Linked DNA regions of Homo sapiens. The protein of the gene in region 2 purifies or fractionates together with the protein of the main gene of each other region. This does not show direct contact. Each region holds a gene or a part of one and is shown on either strand. Other genes may lie near its edges.

What was found.
Region 1: the proteins of SLC9A6 (region 2) and PLD6 purify together in Homo sapiens (affinity purification with mass spectrometry; 3 studies listed by BioGRID and IntAct, with this or other methods). This does not show direct contact.
Region 3: the proteins of SLC9A6 (region 2) and FUT8 purify together in Homo sapiens (affinity purification with mass spectrometry; 3 studies listed by BioGRID and IntAct, with this or other methods). This does not show direct contact.
Region 4: the proteins of SLC9A6 (region 2) and CLGN purify together in Homo sapiens (co-immunoprecipitation; 3 studies listed by BioGRID and IntAct, with this or other methods). This does not show direct contact.

Annotation. Positions count from the first base shown.
Region 1 is NC_000017.11:17,203,300-17,210,465, reverse strand, and holds the start of PLD6 (mitochondrial cardiolipin hydrolase), read left to right. Parts: upstream 1-4,132; 5' UTR 4,133-4,179; coding exon 4,180-4,606; intron 4,607-7,166. UniProt on the Homo sapiens protein: Presents phospholipase and nuclease activities, depending on the different physiological conditions. Interaction with Mitoguardin (MIGA1 or MIGA2) affects the dimer conformation, facilitating the lipase activity over the nuclease activity.
Region 2 is NC_000023.11:135,988,381-135,995,706, forward strand, and holds part of SLC9A6 (sodium/hydrogen exchanger 6), read left to right. Parts: intron 1-6,405; coding exon 6,406-6,605; intron 6,606-7,326. UniProt on the Homo sapiens protein: Endosomal Na(+), K(+)/H(+) antiporter. Mediates the electroneutral exchange of endosomal luminal H(+) for a cytosolic Na(+) or K(+).
Region 3 is NC_000014.9:65,611,680-65,619,005, forward strand, and holds part of FUT8 (alpha-(1,6)-fucosyltransferase), read left to right. Parts: intron 1-4,298; coding exon 4,299-4,414; intron 4,415-4,531; coding exon 4,532-4,694; intron 4,695-5,410; coding exon of another isoform or gene 5,411-5,512; intron 5,513-7,326. UniProt on the Homo sapiens protein: Catalyzes the addition of fucose in alpha 1-6 linkage to the first GlcNAc residue, next to the peptide chains in N-glycans.
Region 4 is NC_000004.12:140,424,390-140,432,135, forward strand, and holds the start of CLGN (calmegin precursor), read right to left. Parts: upstream 3,260-7,746; 5' UTR 3,148-3,259; intron 2,399-3,147; exon of another isoform or gene 2,315-2,398; intron 1-2,314. UniProt on the Homo sapiens protein: Functions during spermatogenesis as a chaperone for a range of client proteins that are important for sperm adhesion onto the egg zona pellucida and for subsequent penetration of the zona pellucida.

The DNA.
Region 1 (7,166 bases), on a different chromosome or scaffold from region 2:
TACTCAGGAGGCTGAGGCAGGAGAATCACTTGAGCTCTTATATATTGTGGAAATTAACCCCTTATCTGATAATATAGTTTGTATAAGCTTTTAAAAAATAAATTGTATATATTTAAGGTATACGACATGATGTTAATGACATACACACACATATTAAAATGGTTATTATAGCCAGGCACTGTGGCTCACACCTGTAATCCCAGCACTTTGGGAGGCCAAGGTGGGCGGATCACCTGAGGTCAGGTGTTCGAGACCAGCCTGGCCAACATGGTGAACTCCCATCTCTACTAAAAGTACAAAAATTAGCTAGGCGTGGTGTCAGGCACCTGTAATCCCAGCTGCTCAGGAGGCTGAGGCAGGAGAATCGCTTGAACCAGGGAGGTGGAGGTTGCAGTGAGCTGAGATGGCCCCATGGCACTCCTGTCTGGGCAGCAAAGCGAGACTCTGTCTCAAAAAATAAAAAATAAACACAAACGGCCAGGCACGGTGGCTCACACCTGTAATCCCAGCACTTTGGGAGGCCAAGGTGGGCGGATCACCTGATGTGAGGTGTTCGAGACCAGCCTGGCCAACATGGTGAAACCCCGTCTCCACTAAACATACAAAAATTAGCCGGGCGTGGTGGTGGGTGCCTGTAATCCCAGCTACTCTGGAGGCTGAGGCAGGAGAATTGCTTGAATCTGGGAGACGGAGGTTGCCGTGAGCCAAGATCACGTCACTGCTGACAGAGCAAGACTCCATCTGAAAAATAAATGAATAAAAAACTAGGCCGGGCACGGTGGCTCACGCCTGTAATCCCAGCACTTTGGGAGGCCGAGGAGGGCAGATAGTGAGGTCAGGAGATCGAGACCATCCTGGCTAACATAGTGAAACCCCATCTCTACTAAAAATACGAAAAATTAGCTGGGCGTGGTGGCGGGCACCTGTAGTCCCAGCTACTTGGGAGGCTGAGGCAGGAGAATGGCGTGAACCTGGGAGGCAGAGCTTGCAAAGTGAGCTGAGATCGCACCACTGCACTCCAGCCTGGGCAACAGAGCAAGACTCCGTCTCAAATAAATAAATAAATAAATAAACTAATAACTAAATGTTGTAACACAAAAGAGGATAAATGCTTAAGGTGATGGATATCCTGTTTACCCTGATGTGATTATTACAAATTGCATGTCTGTACCAAAATATCTCATGTACCCGATAAATATATATACCTACTATATACCGACAAAGTTAAAAATAGAAACTGGAAGACAAAAAATAAATAAAAATCAAATAAAGCTTCTCATTTTGTTGTCTGCCTTTGGTAGATTTCCAGCCCTGAAGTGGCTGTTTTTGAAAACTGTTTTCCCCCAGTTTTATTTTTGTTTATCCCTCTCTGGAGGGATTTGAGTCCTTCTTTATACCTCCACAACTCCAAGTCCCTCCTCTCATTATCGTTTTAGATGAGGAAAGTGAAGCTCAGAAGAGATGAATCAATTTGCCCTAGACCATGCAGCTAGGAAGCCTGGGAGCCAGCACTAAACTCAAGTGTTCTTTTTCTTTGTTAAGAATTTTATTCGCCAGGCACGGTGGCTCACACCTGTAATTCCAGCACTTTGGGAGGCCGAGGCAGGCTGATCACGAGGTCAGGCGATCGAGACCATCCTAGCTAACACGATGAAACCCCGTCTCTACTAAAAATACAAAAACAAAAATTTAGCCGATGTGGTGGTGTGCATTTGTAGTCCCAGCTACTTGGGAGGCTGAGGCAGGAGAATTGCTTGAACCCAGGAGGTGAAGGTTGCAGTGAGCCGAGATCGTGCCACTGCACTCCAGACTGGGCGACAGAGCGAGACTTCATCTCAAAAAAAAAAAAAAGAAGGCCGGGTGCGGTGGCTCACGCCTGTAATCCCAGCACTTTGGGAGGCCGAGGCAGGTGGATCACGAGGTCAGGAGTTCGAGACCAGCACGGCCAAGATGGTGAAACCCCATCTCTACTAAAAATACAAAAATTAGCCGGGTGTGGTGGTGGGCGCCTGTAATCCCAGCTGCTCGGGAGGCTGACGCAGAGACTCACTTGAACCCCGGAGGCAGAGGTTGCAGTGAGCCGAGATCGCACCACTGCACACCAGCCTGGGCGAAAGAACGAGGCTCCGTCTTAAAAAAAAAAAAAAGAATTTTATTGACATAATCACTGACATACATTTTTAGTTATTTACACCATACAATTTGACATATGTATATACCTGTGAAACCACCACAGTCAACCCGATAAGCACACATCCATCACTCCACTTCCTTGTGGCTTTGTTGGCCTCCAGGCTACACTGGTCTGCTTTCCCTCAATCTAGTTTGCATTTTCTAGAATTTTATGTAAATGGAATCATACAGTATGTACTCTTTTTGTCTGGCTTTTCCCACTCAATATTAATGAAATTCATCCACGTCGTAGCACATGTGAGTACTGTTTTTTTTTTTTTTTGGTGGGGGGGGGATAGGGTCTTGCTGTGTCACCCAGGCTGGAGTGCAATGGCATGATCTTGGCTCACTGCAACCTTAGTCTCCAGAGCTCAAGCGATTCTCCCACCTCAGCCTCCCGAGTAGCTGGGATCACAGGCACGTCAGCGCACTCAGCTAATTTTTGTATTTTTTGGTAGAGACAGTGTTTCACCATGTTGGCCAAGCTGGTTTCGAATTCCCGAACTCAAGCTGTCCTCCTGCCTCAGCCTCCCAAAGTTCTGGGATAACAGGCATGAACCACCGTGCCAGGCCACTTCATTCTATTTTATTGCTAAATAGCATTCCCTTGTACAGATATACAAAAGCTTATTTACCTGTTTACCTGCTGACGCCTTTTTGGGTTGTTCTAGGCACATACGCCTGCCAGGACACGTGCTTGTGTTAATGGATCCCGCCCTTTCTCCTAGGAGTGGGATAGCTGGATCATATGGAAGGTGCAAGTTTAATATTTTAATAAACTTTTAATTTAGAATAATTTGCTTTACAGAAAAGTTTCGAATATAGAACAGAGAGATCCATTTACCCCCACGCAGCTTCCTTTGTTAACCTTTTACATTCCTTTCATACATTTGTCAAAGCTAAGAAACTGACATTGGTACAATGCGATTAAGCTCCAGACTTTATTTGGCTCTCACCAGTTTTTCCGTGAATGTCTTCTTTCGGTTCCAGGATCCAGCCCAGACCACCACATTGCCCCGTTTCCCTATGCCCCCGGCCCAGTGCCCTCGGCTGCCTTAGTCTCTTCCTCTGTTTATGCTTAAAGCAGGGCAGGCCTTCCAACAACGCCGGCTGGAAAAAACCTCTTGGGCTAGGAAAAAACCTCTGGGCCGACACCGCCTCCAGTATGCTGGGTTCCAATGCTGCCTCCAGCTGTGTTGATTCCCTGATTATCTGTGTTCCCAGGTCATTCCCCAGCCCAGCCTAGCTGCTCCCGAGAAGACAGTGAAGGTGTGACCCCACATTTCCAGAGCAGCTCTGCTGTGCTCCATGCGAGGAAAGCCGGGGTTGCTGTGGCTTCTAGCGCGGAGAGCGGTCTCTGGCCTGGGCAGGTGACGGGTGTGCTAGGGCCCGTGGCCCGCGGGTGTGCAGGTGCTGCCTGGTGGCGCGGGCTTGGGGACGTGGCTTGGCACGTGGTGGGAGGTGGAACCTGGAGGGCGTGGCCGAGCGCCTGGCTGGAAGGAAAATGGGGGGCACAGCCTGGCGTTGGGGGGTGGAGGGTGTCTGTGGCAGGGGGCGTGGCCTGGCGCGTGGAGGGAGGCGTGGTCACCTGTTGAGGGTTGGGGGCGGGCTGATGGGAGGCGTGGGTTCAGCTTGGTGCGTGACAGTTGTGGGGGCATGGCGCGGCCTAGCGCGTGGCCCTCGGGGGCTGAGGGCGTGACCTTGCACGTGGCCGTTGGTGGGGCGTGACGGGGGCGTGGCCTGGCGTGTGGCCATGGGTGCTGGGCGTGGCCTGGCACGTGGCCTGGCACGTGGCCGTTGGCGCTGCGTGACGGGGGCGTGGCCTGGTGCGTGGCAATTGGCAGGACGTGATAGGGCGTGGCCTGGCGCGTGGCCATGGGGGGCTGGGCGTGGCCTGGCACATGGCCGCTGGCGGCGCGTGACGGGGGCGTGGCCTGGCGGTCTAGGGCTGGGGGCGCGCAGACTCCGCTGCGGCGGCGTGGCTGTGGGTCCCGGATTAGCGGCGGCATGGGACGGTTGAGTTGGCAGGTGGCGGCCGCGGCGGCTGTGGGCCTGGCTCTGACTCTGGAGGCGCTGCCTTGGGTGCTGCGCTGGCTGCGGTCCAGGCGGCGGCGGCCGCGGCGCGAGGCGCTGTTCTTCCCGTCTCAGGTGACCTGTACCGAGGCCCTGCTGCGGGCTCCGGGCGCGGAGCTGGCCGAGCTCCCCGAGGGCTGCCCGTGCGGCCTGCCCCACGGCGAGAGCGCGCTAAGCCGCCTGCTGCGTGCCCTGCTGGCCGCCCGCGCCAGCCTGGATCTCTGCCTGTTCGCCTTCTCCAGCCCGCAGCTGGGCCGCGCCGTGCAGTTGCTGCACCAGCGTGGGGTGCGAGTGCGGGTCGTCACCGACTGCGACTACATGGCCCTCAACGGCTCGCAAATCGGTCTGCTGCGCAAGGCAGGTAGGCCCGGCGGGGTCCAAGCGGAGAAGGCCGGCTTGGCCCACGCGGGGTCCTAGGCGCAAAGGTGGACACTTAGGGGAGGGGGTCTGGGGACGGGCTGAGGCCTCATTTACTTTCCTCGTGGCCTTGTGGGGTCGGGGTGGTGTAACGCGGAGAAAGCAGAGCCCCCACAGAAGGTCTAGCCGGCTGCGTGGGCATAAGCGAGCCGGACCCTCGGTGCCTCCGCGGTGGGGGCGGTTCTCTCAGTGAACTGTCCCGGCATGCTGGAAGCAGGTGGGCCTGCGTGTGCCGGGTTAGAGGCGGAGCAGATTCCCCTAGCAACTCCTCGGGCGCCGCCGGCGGAGTTTTCGTGACTGCTGCAGCCCGGGCCCGCCCTCCTACGCTGCCGGAGATCCCCGGACGGCCTCTGGTAACCTGGATCCTGGTGGCAGGGGAGCTGGACGCCAGGGTTGTGCTTGGACTTCCAGACTGAAGGGCTCTGGGGAGAGGCGGCCACCTGCTGCCCAGTGAATCTCAGGCCACTGGGCTCTGGGAGACCTGAACATGTTCTAGAAAGCAGCGCCAGGACATTCGGTTGTTTTCCCAGCTGCAAAAGGAGGGGAACACATATTTCTGGCGGGGGCGCCTCTCTCATGGGGTGGGGACAGAAGGGACCAGGAAATGTGAATAATTGGGATCCTTGTCCCACCTGAGGATTCTCAGTCCATCCTGGCCCAGTTCGGCGGCCCAGCCTGCTGTTGCCTTTTGTGTATCTGCACTCACAGACTCTTGGGCCTGTCTCTGTCTCCATCACTCAGGCACCCAGAAAGTCACGCCTGCACGTGCAACGGTTGGATCTGATAATACTGGTGGTCGCAGTGACCGAGAGATGTGTGGAGCCCTGGGAATTGTCCAGGCTGGGCAGTGGTCACCGCCGCGCTGTTCCTTCTGCACAGCCATAGCCTCTTGTTGACTTGGGCCTCAGAGCAGCCTCTCCAGAGTCAGCCAGGGTCCCTCCCTGCTCTGGGTGGTGTGGGGCATGTTGCACGCCATGTGGGAGCAGAGTGGGGCACGTGGTTTTCATATTGAGGATGTCTCCTTCTCTTTGGGGCAGCCACAAGAGCTGTCCTCCCATGTGTTGGTCATTTTAACGGGAGGTTTGGGGACCTCCAGGCATGCACAGTACAGTTCTGTTTGAGTTGCTTTTACAGTCGTAGAAGCTGAGGTTGGTGAAGACCCTTCAAGGGCCCCTAGACCAAGGTCCCATCGGATCCCCTCTGGGATGGCCTCCCAGCATCCTCGCTGACTTCGAGGCTGTCCAGTGGCATTCACTGTTCAAGGAATGTCCCCTCTGTGCCAGTATTTGTGAGGAGCTGGAACATCCTAGGGCACAAGGGCACAAGGCCAGGTTGCCACGGAGATGCCAACTAAGTCATGAATATTTCATTTAGGGCACTGAGAAGGGCCAAGAAAACTTCATAAAGCAGGGTAAGGAGGCAGTGGTGTGGGAGGAAGTGGCGTGGGCCAGGTCAGCTGCCCAGGGGCAGTGACACTCAGGGCAGGGACCTTGCTGACACCAGTGGACTGTTCGGAGGGAGAGGCATGCGGCTGGAAGGGGCAGCAGCACAGTCGCCCTGGGTCACAGACTGACTTCCTTTTGAGGAAGGGCAGGAAGTCCCCTGTGGCCAGAGGTGGCAGGCCGCGGGGAGGGGACGGGGAGGTGGGCAGTGGATCCCAGCGGAGGCAGGAGGTGTGGGCGATGGTGGGGTTTTACATTGCCCACCGTGTGGAGGAATGTGTTTGGAGGGCTGTGCCGACAGGACGTGCCAGAGGAGTGGCCAGAGTGTGAGAAGAAGGGCTGGCTCCTCGAGGTAAGGAAGCCACCACGTCTTCATCCTGCCAGGCCCAATTTAGGGGGCACAATTAAATATGAGTTCCATGCACAGGGAGTGATTTTTAGGGTATGTTCCCAGTACTCCATGGGACACACTTCCCTTCAAAGATTACTCTTTATCTGAAATTCCATTTAACTTGGATGTTCTGTATTTTGATTCGGAAAATCTGGCAACTGTGTTCCATGGCAGCCTGTTTAAAACTTCTTTTAAGCCCCATTTCTGACGGCCTCATTCCTTAAGCAGGTCGTGAGTGAGGCAGTGTTATTCCAGGGGAGACAGACACAGGCCCTTCCCAAGAGGAGTTTGAAAGCTGGGAAGAGCAGAGGCCGGGATGCCTGGTTCTTTGGTGAAGGAAGCAGGGGGGTGCGGAAGAGGAGAATTCATTTGTGCGTTGTTAGTTAGGGCCCTTCCTGCCTTGGTGGCCGAGGTTGTGCCAGCAAATTGGGCTCTGCTCTCAGACGCCGGGGCCTCTCTGGGCAGAGTGGGCACGCTCTCAGCCTTAGCTGTGGAAGAGTCAGAACCTGAAGGCTCACACGCTGTCTTTGCCCTGGTCACCTCTGACTGGGTTAGTGACAGCCTTGGCAGCAAGCAGTAACCCCGAAGGGACATACTGGCTGGCATAGACTCGGAGGTGTGGCCTCACCCAGACCACGGCCTGCCCAGTCCCCCATAGCCTGTGTGTGACG
Region 2 (7,326 bases):
CGAGAATAGATGGGATTGGGTCAAAGTTTCTTTCTTTCTCTCTCTTTCTTTTCTTTCTTTCTTTCTTTCTCTCTCTTTTCTTTCTTTCTTTCTTTTCTTTCTTTCTTTCTTTCTTTCTTTTCTTTCTTTCTTTCTCTCTCTTTCTTTCTCTCTCTTTCTTTCTTTCTTTTTTTGTGGAGGGTCAAAGTATTTTCAATAGCATGAAAATTGAAGTTTTCTTTTTCCTTTTTTTATTTTTGATAGAGTGTTGCTCTGTCGCCTAGGCTGGAGTGCAGTGGTGGGGTCATAGCTCACTGCAGCCTCAACCTCCTGGGCTTAAGTGATCCTCCCACCTCATCCTTCTGAGTTACTGTGACTACAGGTGTGCATCACCACACCTGGCTAATTTTTTATTTTTATTTTTGTGGTGACGCGAGTGTGGGGGGGTCTTCCCATGTTGCCCAGGCTGGTCTCAAGCTCTTAGCTCTTGGGCTCAAGCTATCCTTTCACCTTGGCCTCCCAAAGTGCTGGGATTATAAGTGTGAGCCACCTCGCCTGGTCAGAAATGGAAGTTTTCTAGTCCTATTTATTGTCTGTTATTTTTCTTATAGCTCTCACAACATCATAGCTATCTTATTATTATTAATATATTATTTTAAAACCTTTATTTTTCAGCATGACTCTGGGGTCAAAATGGGATGCCTAGACCTCTAAGATTCAGCCCACTGGTGATCTTATTCCTGTGATATTGGGTTAGCTACGTAAATCCTGGAAAATGCTATTAAAAATAAGCTTTTCCTTTATCTGAGAAGCAGGAGTAAAAACAGTTTAAATTGCCAAAGTGGTCAGTTTCTAGATTGTAATATAGATCAATTGCTCCAGTTACAAACACACAATTGCAAAGTACCCACATGTTTTGCTCCTTGGGTTAGCTTTCTTAAGAAGCTTAAAAGTGAGTCACTGTTAGTAAAAGTTGTCGAGGTAGTTAAATTAAGTCTGAAAAGTGATCACGCACTACACTGTGCTTACAGATGGTATAAAAAGCAAAATATGGCAGAAATATTTGTATTGCCTTAAGCTTAAGGCATCTGGAGTCCGAGGTTTAACCAATGTGATTCATCAATAAATATTGATTAGATGTCTATGATGTATGGGATATGATGAGAAATACATGTTTGAGCCACAGTATCTGCCCTCAAAGCACTTATCATCTAATGACTATGGCTCATACCTTATTTCTCATCATATCTTTCACAAAACTAATCTGTAGAAATTGTATCAGTTTTGGTCACACTTAATGCCCTAGTGATGTTCTTCCTATATTTTTGACTATCAGAGGCTTCAGGTGTGATTGGCTGGAATAATGGGCTGAAATCCATGAGGAAACCAGTCACTGCCAACTGGGAGAATCACACATTAGTAGGGCCTTGGGTGATGCTGATTTTTTTTATCACTGGGAGACTTTTCAGCACAGGAGGGTCAGGAATGTGTAGGAGGGTTAGGACCTCTCTGTTTTGTGAAAGATATCTCTTTGTGGTTGTGTTTTTTTTGTTTTTGTTTTTGTTTTGAGACGCGTTAGGACCTCTCTGTTTTGTGAAAGATATCTCTTTGTGGTTGTGTTTTTTTTGTTTTTGTTTTTGTTTTGAGACGGAGTCTCGCTCTGTCTCCCAGGCTGGAGTGCAGTGGCGCTATCTCGGCTCACTGCAAGCTCCGCCTCCTGGGTTCATGCCATTCTTCTGCCTCAGCCTCCCGAGTAGCTGGGATTACAGGTGACCGCCACCACGCCTGGCTAAATTTTTTGTAATTTTAGTAGAGATGGGGTTTCACTGTGTTAGCCAGGATGGTCTCGATCTCCTGACCTTGTGATCCACCCACCTCGGCCTCCCAAAGTGCTGGGATTACAGGCATGAGCCACAGCACCCAGCCATGGTTGTGTTCTTTGTTGCCTGTTAGTGGTCATTTAAAGTTTCATAATATAAATATTTTCTGTGCCTCCCTCTATGTAGGAGGCTAGAAGTTTCTGCTTTAGTCTCTTAACAAAGCTCTGTTTTTGTATCCTTTCACTGAGAATTGCTTTGACTCTATGACTAGGATTTGGCCTTTTACAGAACCCTCGTTAACTTGATCTGTGAATTTTTTTCAAATACCAATTTTTCAGATGCCTGGTGCCATAATAAAGGGATCTTGATTTTGTTTTCAACCTAAATAATTATTCTCCATGCTGTTGTTTTATCGACCAAGGTATGTGTTTCAAATTTGCCCAAGTGCTGAGCTCTCCTCAGGGTACCCAGTGATGCTTCAGCATAGGGTTGGGCAAACAGTAGAACCAGTGGGCACTCGGGAGGCGGAGGTTGCAGTGAGCCGAGATCACGCCACTGCACTCCAACCTCAGCAACAGAGTAGGACTCCGTCTCAAAAATAAATAAATAAATAAAATAAAAAAAAAGAACCATGGTTGGGCTTGGGGACATGGAAGGAATTTATGCTGCCATTATTAGCATTTGTAGTAGCTTGTCTGTGATTTTTGCATGTAAATATAAGAGGACAGCTTTTACTGAGCCTCTTAATTAGCTCTTGTGGAATAGTAGAGAAAAGAGCTGTTTCTGTCTCATACAGGCAGAACGACTGGATCTACAGGCTTTTCTCTTCTAGGTTATGTCTGTCAAGTGCAGTTGCTATCTAACAGTCAGTTTTTAATTTTGTTTTTGGAGGTGAGATATTTTTAAAAGGTGTCTTTCATTTATTTTAAATTCGAACCTTTGTTTAAACGTTTTTAAAGTTGGTGTCATTATACTACTGTTCACGAATGAATCATTACTACTCTAAAAAATATATGTGACTATAAATTGACCAGAAGGATCCCTCCTCTCTGCTCCCTCCCTGCTTCCTGGGCAACTACTGCCTTTTTTTTTTTTTGGACAGAGTTTTTGCTCCATTGTCCTGGCTGGAGTGCGGTGGCATGATCTCAACTCACTGCAACCTCCACCTCCTGGGTTCAAGCAACTTTCCTGCCTCAGCCTCCCAAGTAGCTGGGATTACAGGTGCCTGCCACCACGCCCGGCTAATTTTTGTATTTTTAGTAGAGATGAGGTTTCACTATGTTGGCCAGGCTGGTCTCGAACTCTTGACCTCAAGTGATCCACCCGCCTCGGCCTCCCAAAGTGCTAGGATTACACGTGAGCCACTGCGCCCGGCTGGCAACGACTGCTCTTATACCTCCTCATTTCTGCTTCATCACTTCTCACTTGGGTCTGGTTTCCACTCCTGCTACTCCACTGAAACTGCTCTTATCAAGGTCACCTATGGCCTCCTTGTTGCCAAACCCAATGGATACTTCTAATGCCTGCCTTACTCGACTTTACTATAGCATTTGATAGTTTTTATCACTTCCTTCTCCTCAAAAATGAATTTTTTCCCTTTCTTCCTGACTTTGCCACCACTGGTTCCTTTTTTTTTCTACTCCTGTGGGTTTTCCTTCTCAGACTCCTTCATCAGCTCCTTCTCCTCTAGCAGCCCCTTAATGTTGGCTGTTAATAGATCAAACCCCAGATCTATATCATAGTCTTCTTCCCATTTTACTTGCTCCCCTGGCGATCTCATCTACATCTGACTTCAACCATCTTATGACTGCACAGTGTATATCTCCAGTTGAGACCCCTCGCTTTAGCTCCAGATACCACATACTCAACTATGCGTGTGTCACAAGTACATCCAACTCAACGTGTCCAAAACTGAATGTAGCCTTTTCCCCTGTAAATCTGTTCATCTGTGTATGTTCCTTACCTCATTGAATGTCCTTGTTATCCCCCTCGGTGCTCAGGCCAACTTACCCACCTGGTTACCAAATCAATTAAGGTTCCTCTTAGTCTTTCATCTCCCTTCCTCAGTCACTAAATCTTCCTAAAATATAATACCTTCAAAAAATCCTTCTCGCCTCCTGTCAGTACTCTCTTAGGTTAGGACCTAAACTCTTATTGCCTGAATGCCTACAGTAGCCCTGTATCTAGCCTTTTAGACCCTCTTTAGTCTAGACCAGTCTTTCTAAAGTAGAAATCTGCTATCAAGCCTCTGCCTTCTATGACTTCATTTTACTTTTGGGATAAACTTCAAATTCCCTTCCCCAACAGATAAGATCTTTTATGATTCAACTCCTGCCAATCTTTCAAACCTCAACTCTTGTCACTTTATAAGCCAGCCATACTAAACTACTTGATTCACTGGATGGGCTGTGTTGTCTCCATCCTTGACTGATATGTACTACTATTCCCCTACGTGGAATATACCCATTTCTTCTAGTTTGTTACCTGCCCAGGTGACATCTCTGGAAAGACTTCCCTAATGTCTTACTCCCCCAGGGTTGCATAGTTGTCTCTTTTCTGTTTTTATAATACCTTGTATACATATATATATATAGCATTATGATTGTTTATTCAGTCTGTTTTCACCAACTGGACCGAGTTTTCCTTGACATTATGATTGTTTATTCAGTCTGTTTTCACCAACTGGACCGAGTTTTCCTTGAAGGAGGGACCTTGTTTTCATCTCTGAACCCTGGAGGCCTACCTAGCATAGTACACTCATTCACGTATTAAAAGAATGGCTGGCTAGTCAGAATGAAAGGCAATAGGAAGGTAAAATGCAGCTAGTAGTGGTATACTATGCATGGAGTTAAGGAAAGTTCCAGAAGTTTGGGTTTTATTTGTAGTTGAGGTATGTCCATACAATGAAATATCGTTTGGTCGTAAAAGTAAATGAGGTTCTGATGCATGCTACAACATAGATAAACCTTGAAAATATGCTAAGTGAAAGAAGTCAGACACAAAAGGCCATATATTGTAGGAGTTCATTTATATGAAATGTCTAGAAAAGACAGGTCCATAAAGAAAGAAAGTAGATGAGTGGTTGCCAGGGGCTGTGGATTCGGGCATGGGGGAATGGAGAGTGACTGCTAGTAGGTGTGGGGTTCTTTTTGGAGGGAAGGAAAATGTTCTAGAATTAGATAGTGGTGATTGATGTTCAACTTTGTGAATACACTAAAGACCACTGAATTGTACAGTTTTTAAAAGGATAAACTTTTGGTGTTTGAATTAGATATCAGTAAAGCCATTACTAAACAATTATAGTCGATCAATATAGTTTTATAGGGCTGGGCATGGTGGCTCAGGTCTGTAATCCCAGCAGTTTGGGAGGCCGAGGTGGATGGATTACAAGGTCAGGAGTTCGACCTTGGTCAGGAGCCTGGCCAACATGGTGAAACCCCATCTCTACTAAAAATACAAAAATTAGCCAGGTGTGTTGGTGTGAGCCTATAATCCCAGCTACTTGGGAGGCTGAGGCAGGATAATTGATTGGACCCGGGAGGCGGAGGTTGCAGTGAGCCGAGATCATGCCACTGCACTCCAGCCTGGGCAACAGAGCAAAATTTCGTCTCAGAAAAAAAAAAAATTTAGTTTTACAGTACCTAGAACATTGTGCATATTTGAATGTCAGTAGGATGATCCAGCAATCTGTTTGATGTCATAGTGCCAGATTCAGGACTTCTATTCCATGTTTTGATTTTGAAGCAGATTTTTAAAATTAAAATCTGATCTTTTAGAAGTAGAAGAACTCAATCAACCTACAAATATTATTGACTTTTCAATTTGTTAAATGTGCATTGTTTGGCCAGTCATGTGCTTTGGGAATAAACTTGCGAAGTGCATTGTTTAAGTCTTATAAATTGATGAATGGAGGTGAAAAACAAATTTCTTTTTTTTTTTTTTTGAGACAGGGTTTCACTTTGTTGCCCAGGCTGGAGTGAAGTGGCATGATCTCGGCTCACTGCAACCTCTGCCTCCTGGGTTAAAGCAATTCTCACACCTCAGCCTCCTGAGTAGCTGGGATTACAGGCGCCCGCCACCACGCCCGGCTGATTTTTTGTATCTTAGTAGAGTTGGGGTTTCACCAAGTTTCCCAGGCTGGTCTCGAACTTCTGAGCTCTCAGGCAATCCACCCATCTCGGCCTCCCAAAGTGCTAAGATTACAGGCATGAGCCACCGCGCCTGGCCAGAAAACACATTTCTAACACGATTGCACTGTCGAGTTGGGACACATTGGAGCATATTCTGTCTACAGATGATTTGAAGATATTTTCTCCTTTTGTTACCTTCCTCATTACTTATTTAAATATTGATCTAGAAATGCAGTGATCTGTGCTGTTGTCCTAGGGAATGTTTTTCTCTCCTGTTTCACTGGATTATATGAAGATTGGGCTGTTTGTTGTATGAATTTAGTAATATTTTAAAACATAACTGCATTTCATCTAAAAATCAGTTCTGAGCTACAGGGAACTACCGTAAGAGATTTTCTCTTATCCATAGTTATGCGTGGGGTACAAAAGAAGTGGTCTCTGTCGGCAAGAAGAGCTTATGTTGTTCTTTTTTCCAGGTCTTTTGGTGGGCCTTGTGCTTCGGTATGGCATTCATGTTCCGAGTGATGTAAATAATGTGACCCTGAGCTGTGAAGTGCAGTCAAGTCCAACTACCTTACTGGTAAATGTTAGTGGAAAATTTTATGAGTATATGCTGAAAGGAGAGATTAGTTCACATGAACTCAATAATGTTCAAGATAATGAAATGCTTAGAAAGGTAAGTTCTTAAAGGAAATCTTTGAATCTTTTTTGTGTCTAACTAGCAGCAAAATGATCCAGGAGAAAATAAGTAATGGATTTTTAATGATATTTAAAATAATGAGTCTTTTTCAATGGAGTAAAACCTCAATTAACAAATGTAATAATGTAAGGAAATGGATATGTCTGTACAACTCATTTTCTGATTGAGGTTAAGTAGTATAACTCTTTTTGTTTCTCTCTGGATTGTTTACAGCTTGTTGTGATAAATGGAGACTGGGATTGAGTTAAGCAGAATTTATAAGCGTTTCTTTCCATTTGCAGATGGTCCTTATAGTTTTCTTTTTCTTTTTCTTTCTTTATTTTATTTTTTCTGAGATGGAGTCTCACTCTGTCACCCAGGTAGAGTGCAGTGGCATGATCTTGGCTCACTGCAGCCTCTGTCTCCTGGGTTCAAGCAATTCTCCTGCCTCAGCCTCCCGTGTAGCTGGGATTACAGGCATCCACCACCACACCCGGCTGATTTTTGTATTTTTTAGTAGAGACGGGGTTCTACCATGTTGGCCAGGCTGGTCTCCAACTCCTGACCTCAAGTGAATCCCCCGCCTCGGCCTCCCAAAGTGCTGGGATTACAGGCATGAGCCACTGCGCCCAGCCGGTCCTTATAGTTTTATAGTACTTCAGCACATTGGCTTTATTTGATAATACCTAAAATATTCTATTAATATTTCTTTCAATTC
Region 3 (7,326 bases), on a different chromosome or scaffold from region 2:
AGATGGAGTCTCACTCTGCCACCCCGGCTGGAGTTCAAAGGCGTGATCTCGACTCACTGCAACCTCTGCCTCTTGGGTTCAAGCAGTTCTCCTGCCTCAGCCTCCTGAGTAGCTGGGATTACAGACGTCTGCCACCATGCCTGGCTAATTTTTGTATTTTTCATAGAGACAGTATTTCACCATGTTGGCCAGGCTGGTCTTGAACTCCTGACCTCAGGTGATCTGCCTGCCTCAGCCTCCCAAAGTGCTGGGATTACAGGCGTGAGCCACCGCACCTGGCCTATTAAAATTTTAACATCTTTTTTATATCTTCCCTGTCTCTAACTTTTGAACATATGAAATACAGTCATAATAACTGTTATTTCTATGGTGATTCTAACATCTGTGTCAGTTTTGAGTTGGTTTTGATAGATTGATTTCACTCTTCTTTATGGGTTGTCTTTTCTTGTTTTTTTGCAAGCCTGGTAACTTTTGTGGATTCCAGACATGAATTTTACCTTGTTTGTTACTAGAAGGTCTTGTATAATTTACAAATATTCTTAAATTTTGTTCTGGGATGTAGTTATGTTATTTTAAAATAATTTGATCCTATTTTGTCTTTTAATAATTGTTAAGTGGGACCTAAGCAATGTTTGGTCTGGGGCACATTTTCCTGCTATTGAGGCCAAATCCTTCTGAGCATTTTACCCAGCATCCCATGAATTACGGTTTTCTAGTCTGGCTGATAGGATCAGGAACTGTTTCTACCTAATCTGTATGAATGCCAGGTACTACTTCCTCTAATCCTTTTAGAGAGTTCTTTCCCCAGCCTGAGTAGTTCCTTATGTGTGTGTGCTGATGAGTACTCTGCTAATTCCAAAATGGTACCTTTGCAGATTTCTGGAATTCTCTGTCCTCTACAGTTCTCTCTTATTCAAACTCTGTCTTGGTCTTTTTAGACTCTTAGCTCCATTTCTTCAACTCAGTGAATGTACTGGCTCCATCTGCATTTCCCCTCCATACACTGTGGTCTGGAAACTCTCTGAATGCAGTAAGCTGGGACAGTCACAGGGCTATCATCATTTGTTTTCCTTCTCTGGTGATCACTGCCCTTTGTTGCCTGATTGCAATTTTATTAGATCATTGTTTAATACATCTAACCTGGATTTTGAGTTGTTTCAGGCAGGATGGTAAATGTCTTGGCTAGAAGTGGAAGTCTTATATATCTGTATCTTTGGCATGGTGAATGTAAGAAAGCATTCTGTTCCCTAAGTATTCAGAAAAGAGACTGTTCGTGCATATTGACTCTTTTCTGGATGGAGTTTGGAAAGAATAGTTCTCCTGTATTTTTTTTTTAGAGTGATTTTTCCAGTAATTTTCTTTTCCAGTTTTTTTTTTCACAGTTGGATTAGATTATTAGGCAATATGGATTACTAATTCCATTATGTTTTATTAGAATTAGATTGGAACTCTTTGTGGAAAGCTACTGAAAAGATCACATGCTATTTTTTTCATGGCTGTTTTGCCTCTGATGTTTATTCCACCAATATTTGAAGAAAGAGATAAAAAGGAGAACCTAGACATAATCTTTCTATTGTCAATTTTTCTATCACTAACATATGTTCTGAAAAAGGACATTCCTGTCCTATAGTATATTGCTGCCAAAATAAATCCCAAGAGATTGAAGTTTTATTCTATTTTCAAATTGTTTCCTAGAAACCAGCCACCTAATTCACAAAGAGATTAAGAGCCAAGTCTTAGAAACATAACTTTAAAAAACTATATACCAGGACATGCCTCATTTGTGAATGTATGCGTGCTCATAAATTGGGTAATTGTGCACCTAACTACTGTATTCATTTTTTATTATTCGCTTTGTGCTTATACAAATGAAGGCTTTTTCATTCATATTCTGTAGCCTTGGACACTCATGATTGGAGGATAGTTACTTTTTATGCTCCTGTTCAATGTTAATGCGTACAATTTTACAGGAAATTATAAAATGTCTCCAATTACTTTGGTATAGCTGTAACAATAGCTACTTTATTAAACGTGTTCTGAAGTAGTGTAGGTAATTGACAGTTAATTTGGCTTTATCAGGTTATATAGAAAATGTTAGAGAAGCTATAAAAAACCTTTCGTATCAGAGTGTTTGCCTCAAAAGGCTATGTTGGCTGGGCGCCGTGGCTCATACCTGTAATTCAGCACTTTGGGAGGTTGAGGTGGGCGGATCACTTGAGGCCAGGAGTTTTAGACCAGCCTGGCCAACCCAATGAAACCCCGTCTCTACTAAAAATGTAAAAAAATTAGCCAGGGATGGTGGTGCATTCCCGTAATCCCATCTGCTCAGGAGGCCGAGGCACGAGAATCATTTGAATCTGGGAGGCAGTGGTTGTGGCAAGCCAAGATCCCATCACTGTACTCCAGCCTGGGTGACAAATCGAGACTGTGTCAAAAAAAAAAAAAAAAGACTGTGTTGACATCTGAATTTAAGTTCTGCCAACTATAATTTAAAACTTAAGTTCCCTTAAACTGGTCATGATGGTAAGAATAGATAGCCCAGACTTTTTGAGATTACAGCTCATCTCTAAAATGACAAAGCTCAGATATAATAGTAGCCTTCATAAAATTTATTGCCAGACACTGCTAAGTACTTTTACAGACATTTCCTCATTTAAATAGACTTTGAAAGAAAAATCAGCTATTTAATCTTTAGGACAATTTTGTAAAAGGATCAATATATGTACGTATTAATTTCCTATTGCTGCTTTGACAAATACCACAAACTTTATGGCTTAAAACAACATAAATTTATTCTCTTAAGAGTTTTGGAGGCCAGAGATCTGAATTGAGTTTCACTGCACTGAAACCAAGATGTCAGGAGGGCTGGATTCCCTAGAGAAGCTCTAGGAGAGCATCTGGGGTATTTTTGTTTGTTCGTTCGTTTGCCTTTTCCAGTTTCTAAAAATGTCTTCCTTGCTCATGGTTGCTTCTTCCATCTTCAAAGCTAACAGCCACATAACCTTTTCCTCTTCTGTAGTAAAATCTTCTTCTACCTTCCTCTTATGAAGACACTTGTTATTACAAAATGGCTCACCTAGATAATCCAATCTCAAAATCCTTAATTATATATTCAGAGTTTCTTTTGCCATAAAGAGTAATATTCACAGATTTCATGATTAGGTTATGGATATCTTTGGGAGACCTTTGTTTAGCCTACCACGAAATTGTATTATGTACATCAAAGTGGAGTACAGTATACTGCCATAAGTCACATAAAAACAAAACAGGAACAAGCACAGTTTGGAATTAAGTTGAACAGAGAGGTTGATAATATAAGTAAGAGATCTTGGATTGCTGTTCTGTGTTCCAGCTTTTATATTATTGACTGATTGTTTTTGTTGCTGATAGAAATGAATAGAACAATGATCTTCAATTTTTTATTTTTATTTTTTCGAGACAGGGTTTCACTCTGCTGCCTACACTAGAATGCAGTGACATGATCATAGTTCATTGTAATCTTGAACTATGGTTCAAGGATGGTTCAAGCCATCCTCCTTCCTTAGCTTCCTGAGTAGCTGGGACTGCAGGCACACACCACCATGTGCCCAGCTAATGTTTTCATTTTTGTAATGATGGGGGATTGCTGTGTTGCCCAGGCTGGCCATGAACTCCTGGGCTCAAGTAATCCTCCTACCTGGGCCTCCCAAAGTGCTGGGATTATAGGCATGAGTGGCTACACCTGGCCCAATTTTTTTCTAATATGTTTTATCTTCTACTCTTGTCTTTCTTTTTTCTATATAAGACCAATGCTTAGTAGTCTAATGTCATGAATTGAAAGACAGATTTACATAGTCTGATATTATAATTAATTTAGAAATACATTATATTTGATGTTTGAGCATGTCCTTAGACACATGTTCAGATATGCTTCGTTATTCCCTTTAAGCCTTTTCTTTACTTTTTCCTTCACTTTTGTTACTCTCAATGCTAATGAATAATTGACCTCTTTGCCACTGATCATGGTACTCTGGGGATGAAAGATTTTTAGGAAACAGCTCTAGAGGTTTGTTAACTCCTAGAAGATCATAGATTTCTGAAGTAGATTAATATTTTCTATTTTTCGTTATTATCATTTCATTGTCCATTTCACTGGTTAATCCTATACCTTTGAAGAGAAAATTCCATTTGGTACTACTTTTGTGCTATATGGTTCAACAACTTATGGAGTTTACAGTATAAATGTTTTAGAAAGTGAGCTTGTATTTTGTTGCACAGTTTGAAAGCTAAATGTTTACATTATCTTCCCTAAACTACAGGATACCAGAAGGCCCTATTGATCAGGGGCCAGCTATAGGAAGAGTACGCGTTTTAGAAGAGCAGCTTGTTAAGGCCAAAGAACAGATTGAAAATTACAAGAAACAGACCAGAAATGGTAGGTGATTATACAGTGTTTTCCCCTCCTCAGTATATGGGCTTTAGCACAGATAATTGAAAGTTTCCTTTTATCAAAATGTTGGAAATGCTACAACTCTCTATTCTTTGACTACAGGTCTGGGGAAGGATCATGAAATCCTGAGGAGGAGGATTGAAAATGGAGCTAAAGAGCTCTGGTTTTTCCTACAGAGTGAATTGAAGAAATTAAAGAACTTAGAAGGAAATGAACTCCAAAGACATGCAGATGAATTTCTTTTGGATTTAGGACATCATGAAAGGTACTATTCTCCTTTCACATTTTATTTGGGCTTTAGAAAAGATTATAATCTAAGAATGAGAAACAGACTTGTTAATCCATCTGTTGAGTGGTAAATATTAATAGCACCTACAATATTTAAGAGGCGAAGAGTACCTGAGGTCCCAAAGGATGGTAATTGCCAAGTGCAGTTCATCAACCAAAATATACCACCAGAAAGTATTAATTAAAATGTATTTCTAGAAATCTTTACATTCTAAATAAATTCTGAAGGTAGTGGTGCCAGCCAACAATACATTAAAATATCTTTCTATAAATGTTCTTTATATATAATCAGTATTTGAAGTGGAGTGTGCAGTTTTGCATTGCGGTACATTGGAACTCATAGTGAGTCCGATGGTTACATTTCTAATTCAAACATTAAAAACTTTAAAATAGCATTTTTTTAAGGATTTCTAATGAAAGGTTAACAGGATTTTTTTTTTCTTTAAGTAAAAAGGAGCATTCTGTTCATTGTTCTTTCATTAGTTGCTGGAAAGAGGTACCTGAGATCTGCCTGGTTAAATTTGTTTCTCCTATGCACACGTTGCTAAATAATATGAAGTTTATCTTCCACAGAAAAGAAAACATTTTGGTGCTGTTGTATTCATGCAGAACAAAATGTATCTGAAAATCATTATAAATACAGTGAAACCTGTCTTTAGGCCTGTTATATTTAAAAGTCTATGTTTCCAGTAGGATTCTGATGGCAATTACTGTCTCATTAGTGAACAATAAAAGAAAAATTGTTGTATTAGCACAACCTACTACTGTGAAGAGGAAAAGAATTACCCCATACAAGTAAGAGATTTCATATTTATTAACATCAGCAGCAATATTATAATGATTTTGAAAAATTGCTTGGTTGTTTTAGGTGAAATTATAAATAAAAATCTGTCTATTGGAATCATTTTAGCATTAATGAATCTACAGAAATATGATAGCATGGATTTCAAGGGGCAGTGAATTATTAGGCCACACATTGGACAGACTTTTTGATATATTTAGCCCAACTTGCAGTCAGGCCATACTTAGACCACTAAACCAAATGCTGACTAATTCTGTCATTAATATTTCTCTACCCTAAAGCTGATTCTAGGCACGAAGCATCTCTTAAATGGAATTTTGTGCTTGTGTTCTTTGCTTATCACAGTTTTTTAGGCCAATTCACATCTGAAGAGGATTTGACTTGGGTAGACTATGCTGTATGTAAAGGAGAATTTTGGCCACTGACTTCTGATGGAATGTTTAATTTTAAGATTTGAGTAATTGGGCTGGGCGTGGTGGCTCATGCCTGTAATCCCAGCACTTTGGGAGGCTGAGATAAGAGATCTCTTGAAGCTAGGAGTTTGAGACCAGCCTGGCCAACATGGTGAAACCCCGTCTCTACCAAAAATACAAAAATCAGCCATGCATGGTGGCACATGCCTGTGATCCCAGCTACTTGGGAGGCTGAGGCCCAAGGATCACTTGAACCTGGGAGGCAGAGGTTGTGGTGAGCAGAGATCATGCCACTGTACTCCAGCCTGGGCAACAGAGCAAGACTCTGTCTCAAAAAAAAGATTTGAGTAATCAAATAACTTGAGAATTTAATTTTCCAGTGTTTTTAAAAATTAATTCATATATATATATATATATATATATATATATATATATATATATATGTATGTATATATTTATTTATTTATTTTTTAGATGTGGAGGTCTTTCTATGTTACCCAGGCCAGTCTTGAACTCCTGGTCTCCAGTGATCCTCCCTCGTCAGCCTCCTGTGTAGCTGGGATTATAGGCCTGGGCTACCATGTCCAGCTGAATTGAAATAATTCTTTAAGGAATTATTTTGTAAATAATAATATAATTTGTTTATATAACTCGCATATGTTTTGTGACCATATGTACAAATGAAAAGTGAATATAAGAAATGGGCCCCTGAGAAACTGATATAAATCAGTTTTCCATTTTGTTGTTGTTGTTGTTGAATTATGATTCCTTACAGTGCCATTTAGTATGTTAAATAATGGTAGTTCATTGAAAACAAAAATGGTAAGTAAAGGTACCCAAGTCAGTTTATTTTCCTGTCTTAAACAGAAATGACAATGAATCTGGGACATAACTTCATAGGGTAGTAATTTAACTCCAGGAAGCCAGATTAGAATGCAGTAATACAAATAATGAGCAAAACACAATCAAACATTAGAGAAATAACCCTTAAACTGACGGACGTACAAATAGAAAGGACTTTTATTATGTAGAATATACCCTTTTACTGACCATTTTCAAGATCCTTAAGTATAAGAATTAAAATCAAAACAAACTTTTAGGTTTGCCTCTGGTAATTTTTATATGATACAAAAGTCCATTTTATTTTTACATTGGCTCAAATGATAGTGTATAGGTTTCTAGGTCTGTAGCTGGGACCATGGTCAGTGAGGCTGCCACCTGGGTATGGGCCTGCCTTCTTAAAAGAGCCCTCCTGAGTCTTGGGCTCTATTAGGGTTTTGCAGCCTTCTACCTGGGTTAGAAGATTATTAGCAGATTATTGAACTTGAGTAGTTCATTGTGGGAGCCCCTGATTTGACAGAGTGTGGGTACCCTGGCCACTTTGTACTTGCGAT
Region 4 (7,746 bases), on a different chromosome or scaffold from region 2:
TCTTTTAAAATTCATTAAGACTTGTTTTGTGGTCTAATATGGTCTATCCTGGAGAATGTTCTATGTGCAGTTAAGAAAAATGTGTGTTCTGCTATTGTTGGGTACAGTGTTGTCCATATGTTTATTATGTTTAGTTGGCTTGTGGTGTTATCTATTTCTTTATTGATCTGTATGGTTGTTTAAGTTATATAATTTTAGTACAGCAAGAATTTGTTTATATGGTATAGGGTAGAACATTTAGTGCTAATGTCACCCTCTTCCCTCCTTATAAATTAAAAGGTAGCATGCCCAGGGTTCCAAGCTTCTTATGTATTCCTCACTCCATGAGGCTTGCTGAGATCACTAAATATCAGTTGTGCCTTCATAAGAAGGGAGGCACTGAAGAACTACATCCTTCTGCACCAACACGTATCTTTGATCTCATGTATGTTCTCTGCACTGCTTCTGTGGTAGTTCAATAACAAATTGAAGCACAAGTAACTTTATCCATGAATGAGATACCATTCTTCCCAATCTTTGAAATCTAGATCAAGTAGTCTGGTCTACTTTAAATAATTACACCAATATCTCCTAAAAACCCTACTGGATCTCCACTACCACCCCCAAATTACAAATTATAAAGTGCAGCTCATGTACTGGTATTGAAGTAATGCTCACTGTCACATCAAAGGTAAGTAAGGCACACAAAGAAAAGACAATCACAGGATATGCAATATGTGTTGTATAGTGTGGGAGAAGTTGCTGGCTGATCACAAGGGTAATTTCCTTGGCACTAGATGTGACCATTACCTGGTTCCAGCCAACAGAATGTAAATAGAAGACCTGTATGCCATTGTCAGCCCTTGCCCATAAAAACTTCCTATAATTATGAATTATAATTCTTTATGATCTTTCCCCTTCTGGTTTGATGCAAGCAATTTTGAAGGTCATGGTTGAAAACGGCAAAATTCCAAGGTAGGAAGTTGCAGAATCCCTGAATCATTACTTGGAGGAGAGTCATTTTATTAGTCAGAGTTCATCAGAGAAGCAGAATCAATAGGGTGTGTGTGTGTGTGTGTGTGTGTGTGTGTGTGTGTGTGTACATACAGGCATACCTCATTTTACTGCACGTTGATTTATTGCATTTTTCACAAATTGAAGGTTTCTGGCAACACTGCATTGAACAAGTCTACAGCTGCCATTTTTCCAACACTATAGTCACTTTATGTTTCTGTGACACATTTTTGTAATTCCTTTTTTTTTTTTTTTTTTTTTTTTGAGATGGAGTCTTGCTCTGTCACCCAGGCTGGAGTGCAGTGGCACAATCTCGGCTCACTGCAACCTCTGCCTCCTTGGTTCAAGCGATTCTCCTGTCTCAGCCTCCCGAGTAGCTGGGATTATAGGCGCGCGCCACTATGCCCGGCTAATTTTTGTATTTTTAGTAGAGACGGGGTTTCACCATATTGGTCAGGCTGGTCTCCAACTCCTAACCTCAGGTGATCCGCCCGCCTCGGCCTCCCAAAGTGCTGGGATTACAAGCGTGAGCCACCGCGCCGGGCCTTCTTTCACTCTCAACACACCTATTTAACACACTTTTTGTACATGCTATTTCTTATAACTGCGATGCCTTTCTGCTGTTATTCAGTTTTAATGGCTGACTGAGGATCCGACCAACACTGGTATATTCCAGAAGTGGTGTTTGACAATCACCTATTACTTAAAGTTTTAGTTGTCATGTGGCTTCAGGAATGCAATGTAGAATGATATAATAAAAAGTACACCCAACATGGCACAATCGCACCAAGTTTCTAGTTTTATTATTAAAAAGACAAGTGATAAAAACTGCTGTGGGCCTGTTTTCTCATTTGTGACGTGAACTAGACAATCCAAAGATTCTTTAAAGTTCATAATTCTAGTTTTCTATTTAAAAACACCAGTATTTATTAGGTACTTAAAAAGTACTACAGCTAACTTACAACACTTCAATTTCTAGACAAATGCATCAACATACTTACATCATTTACACACAATAATTAACCTTATCAACTAGCTAAGACAGAGAGTACAGAATATCTTGTTCTGAGGATTTGGAGATGAGATCTAAATGTTACTGGAAGATCAAACCAATAAGACGTGAAGGCAAAACTCCAAACTGAAAACAGGTCAAACTTACAATGACCCAAAGGAGGGCTACCTCGAGTGATGTCGACATTTGTAAAACAAGCAAAATCATCAGATGAGATCGGGATTTTGCCTGCTTTTAAGCAACAAAAAGTTTATACGTTAATGAACTCTTTTCTAATTTGAGACTTCTTCCTGTGGCCACGTTATTTACCTTTTCTCTCCCAGTCCTGAGCTTTGGTTGCCATTTGCTTTTAACTCCCAAGCAAACACCTCCTCTTTGTTGCTTGGGCAGATGCTATAAATAAAATCAGCGAAAGTGTCTGATTGATGGTAAACAGGCCTGGGGCGATAATGAGTCTAGTAATTAGGGCCTCTCTGGATTCAACCCAGCCCTTTCGCCCGCCCCCCGGCGGCGCACAATGGGCTCTGCGCGGGTATCGAGGGAGCGGCCAACAGTCCCTGGCCCCACCGCCGTGAAGTGGGGTCCCTTCGCTTCCACATAGGTGGAGACTGAGACAGCCGAGCCTATTTTGATCTCGTTTGGGTTTCTGTAAGGAGCAGTCAGCAGAGTGAGCAGCGCCCAGACGCGCCCCGGGCCCCCTCTACAACCATTGGGAGAGCGCCCCGGGCTCAAGCGTGGAACGGGGCTGCAATGGCAACCGCTGGAATAACGGCCTCGGCTCCCGGTGGCTCCTCAAGCCCGCAGGGGAGGCCGGCCGGGCTAGGCACCTAGCTGTCCCCGTGCTCGTCCGCCCCAGCCCGGGCGCAGCAGGTGGATGCGGCGGTGCTGAAGACACAAAGGGTCCCAGGTGGCACCACCTCCTGCGTCCACCCACGGGGCCGCCAGAGCCCAGTCAAGACCCTAGCTCGCTGCAGCCCCATCGCCAGACTCAACATCCACCCTCACTTGGCCCCGACCGGTTCAGCCCTCTGGCGGCAAAGTAACGGGGTGCCTGGGGGAAGCAGCAACGACTCCGCTTCCTCACCCCAATCTGCGCGCAAAGGGCAGCGGGACAGCGGGAACGCGGCCTGCTGCTCACGCACCTCTCTTGCGGCCTGTTTTCGGCAGTGACAGCTCAGATGTCCAAGTCGTTGCCACTTGGTCCCCGCGTCTCTTCAGACCAGTCCCGCCGGCGGCCGCGCAGCAGCGACTACTAACCGCGCGTGCGCGTGCGGTGGCGGGCGGGAGGCGGTGGCGGCCCGAGGTGTGTGCTACGCGCTCCTGCTCCGAGGGGCTCAACCGCCTCCAGGGGGAGCCGCACATGGAGCCTGTGCCGCCGCCGGCCGGTTGTGGCCTGGACCCCGCTCCCGGGTTAGCCCAGGAGGAATTCCCCCTGCAAGTCCGAAGACTTTTCCTCCTCTGAGCTCCCGCCCTCTCTGCAGACCGTGCTACCTCCTGTTGCGCAATGATTGGGTCCTGAATTTTATGTAAATCATATTTATGAACAACGTCCAGTAATAAGTGCAGCAAGATTAGGGCTCTAGGTTTTCTCCAGAGTTCTAGATGTTAACAGATCTGCAGTCATGGTGATTAATAAGGAGCTTTCCTGTCTGGTGTGTGTATATGACAAATACAGATGCGTTAAGTGTTAATAAATACATTGTATATAAAACAATATGTTCTTTTTCTCTCGAACAACACTATTAATAAGAGCTGCTAACATTTATTGTGTTCATTGTGCTCTAAGGGGCTTACATTCATTGTTTAACCTTCGTGGCAACCCAGGTGATGAAACTGATGGCAACTTGCTCGAAGTTACACAACATGTAAACAGTGGAAACGGGATGTAAATCAGGCCTGTCTCTCTCAGAGCCTGTAGTTTCAAACACATTGAAATAAATCTTAGCATAAACGTAGTTTATGCTATGATTATGCAATCACAAGCTGCTTTGCCTTTTATATATTGGATCAATATTAATTTTACTACTTAATATTTTATAGTAAATCTTGACTTTGAATTTGGTATAACAATTTAATTTTATTGGAAGATTAATTAACAACATTTAATTGACTTGTGAGTCTAAGACCCTTGTTGAAGAGTTTCAATCTTAAGGGTTTGGTGGCATTCCGTGCACAACGTATCATTATTGGCTAGGGGTCAAGATCACTGAGTTTTTTCACATTGCTTCACTAATTAAGACCAGCATTTCTAAACTTTTGACTTTGTCATCTCTGGGAGAGTGTTTGGATAGTGTTAAAATTTACTGGTTAAAAAGACATTTTGTTTGAGATACTTTGTAACAATATTATACCCTTTATTTCTTTCTTCCGTCCTTCTGACTTCTATTATTCAACATACTTCTGTGGCCCATAACAAATACACTTGAACTGCTAGAGAGGGATTTTTTAAAGGATCCATTCAAAGTTTGCAGTGAGGAAGCTGAAAACTAAAAATGTAAGAATAGTGAATTTTTGCAAGATTTAGTAGTATCTTCTTGGTCACATAGTACTCAAAACCTTGAGAACATTTTTTTACTCTTTGGCTGCTACATTCACTGCCTCCATAAATTAAACTCTAACTCCATAAAATCATCTAAAAGAGGTCCTCACCCCCTCCAGTCCCTGTGCCATTTCTCTAGTTTAGATTCTCACTACTTTAGAAACTGTTGTTCAGAGTTACCTAACTAGTTGCCCCCCTTCAGAGCCTCCCACCTACACTTCGTAGTTTAATCCTCAGCTCATTCAATAGTTTCCAATGACCCTTCATTACCCACAGCATGAAATCTAATCTCTAACCTTGAAATTTAAGGCCTTAACATATCTCCAAAATTATTTGCCACTTATTGAAAGGATGATTGAATATAATATTTATAATTTGTTTAATAGGCAACTTTTCATCAGAATAATACAATGTGATAATGTCAGAGGAGAAAGAATAATCTGCAAATAAGACAAGGGGTATGGCTTTTGAGAGTGATGTAGTGTTTAATAATACAAGCGGAGGAGTCCCAGAATGTAATGCTGAATGGTAGAGTCGTGAAGTGTTCTGACACATCAAAGTTGAAGAGAGATTTGGGAAGAGACCAAGGCAATGTAATCAAGATTGGAGGGACTAGAGTAATCAGAAATCTAGAAAAACATAAAAAGCAGGAAAGGTGACCTGGCATGGTGGCTCATGCATGTAATCCCAGCTCTTTGAGAGGCTGAGGCAGGTAGATCACTTGAGCCGAGCTGCCTGAGACCAGCCTGGGAAACATGATGAAACCCCATCTCTACAAAAAAATACAAAAAATTTAACTGGGCATGGTGGTGCATGCCTGTAGTCCTAGCTACCTGGGAAGCTGAGGTGGGAGGAAGCTGAGGTGGGATGAGCCCAGGAGGCAGAGGTTGCAGTGAGCCCAGATAGTGCCACTGCACTCCAGCTTGGATGGCAGAGTGAGACATTGTGTCAAAAAAAAAAAAAAAAAAAAAAAAAAAAAAAAGCAGAAAGGTTCATGCTCCTTGATGGAACAGAGTGATGTCCTGTTGGAAGCCTGTTTTGTAATCAAAATCAGAGCTGTGTTTTATTAATGTTCTACTATGTGCAAGTTGCTATATGCAATTGACCCACAGGTATCATCCTTATTTTACTTATGAGGAAATAGACCCAGATCAGTTACATAACTTATTCACACAGATCTTAAGATGCAGAGTGAGGATTCAAAGCCTGTGCCCTTTCCACAACACCTTGCCACTTGAAAAATGCAGAATATAGGAAATGCCTCGATTATCAGGATTAAAGAGCTATGCAGAATGAAGTTTTAACTCAAATACAATGAGTGGACTCAGAACCTAGATAATTCAAATAATACTTTAAAAATGTTTGTATATTTTCATATGTTTAGGAATGTGCTTTTTAATGGTGCAGAAAATAGAGAAAAGGAAACAAAGTATTCCACAAGTATTTCCAGTGGGTTGACTTTTATTTTCAAGATGTATAATTATGTCTATGGCAGAAAATGATCTTTTCTTTCTTATATTTATACTTATTTTCTGAGGTTTTTTTCCTTATTACTTTAACAAAAATATCAAACAATAGTAAATAATAGTAATGACAATAGTCATCATTGTTTTTCCCAGAATTCGTCTGGTTAAACTATATAGTTGGCAGAATGAGCCCATGCTGAGTTTTTTTCTTGTGTCTCAAGATAACCCCCCTCAGAAACACTACCCGACTTTAGGATTTATAGAATGATATACAGCTATAGTTATCAAAGAGTTATCAAAGAGTATTAGTATCAAGGCAAACAAATCAATGGAACAGAATAGATTCTATATAGACTTACATGTGTATGTATTATGGCCTGGATATGGTTGGTTTGTCCCAACCAAAACTCATGTTGAAATTTGGTCCCCAGTGTGGCAGTGCTGGAAAGTGGGGCCTAATGGGAGGTATTTGGGTCATGAAGGTCCTGTCCTCGTAGGTGGCTTGATGCCATTGCAGTAGTGAGTGAGTTCTTGCTCTGACGAGACTGGATTCATTCCCATGAGAATGGGTTGTTATAAAGCTGGGTGCCCCTCAGGTTTTCCCTCTTTGCATGCGTCTGCTTCCCCTTTGACCTTCTCTGCCATCTTTTGGCCTAGCACAAAAGCCTCACCACAAGCCAGAGCCATGTCCTTGAACTTCCCAGCTAGCCAGACTGTGAGTTAAATAAATCTCTTTTCTTTATAAATTACCCATTCCCAGGTGTTCTGTTATAGCAACACAAAACAGAATAAGACAGTGTGGGGAACTGGTTTTCAACATAGGTACACATGCAGTTGGTAGAGAAAGCCTAGTCTTTTCAACAAATTGTGGTGGTACAATTGAATATTCACATGTAATAAGTACATTTTTCAATCCATACCACACAGCATATATAAAAAAAGAGACTGGCTGCATTTTGCCCCGTCTTAGATATTTGTGGAACTTTGAACTTGAGGGAGATGATTTAGGATATATGGTGTAAAAAATTTCTAAGCAGCAAAGCACTCAAGAGGTGACTTGGGTGCTATTAGAGGCACTCCGTTTTAAAAGGGAAACAGAAAATAAAAGGTTTGAAAATTTGCAGCCTGACAATGTGATAGAAATGAAAATCTCCACTGCAGAAATTTTCATAAGTAACAAGAAGCCAAATGTTAATCCACACGACAATGGGAAAATGTCTCCACGGCATGTCAGAGGTCTTCATGTCAGCCACTCTCATCACAGGTCCAGAGACCTAGGAGGAAAAGACAGTTTTGTGGGCTGGGCCCAGGGCTCCTCTGCTCTGTGCAGCCTAGGGACTTGGTACTCTGTGTTCCAGCTGCTCCAGCCATGGCTAAAAGGGGTCAACGTACAGCTCAGGCTGCTGCTTCAGAGGGTGGAAGCCCCAAGCCTTGGCAGCTTCCAGGTGGTGAGCCTGTGGGTACCCAGAAGTTGAGAATTAAGGTTTAGGAACCTCTACCTAGATTTCATAGGATGTATGGAAACGCCTGGATGCCCAGGTGGAAGTTTGCTGCAGGGGCGGGGGTCTCATGGAGAAGCTCTGCTAGGGCAGTGCTGAAGGGAAATGTGGGGTCAGAGCCCCCCACACAGAGTCCTTGTGGGGCACCACCTAGTGGAACTGTCAGAAGAGGGCCACCATCCTCCAGACCCCAGAATGGTAGATCCACTGACAGCTTGCGCTGTGCACCAGGAAAAG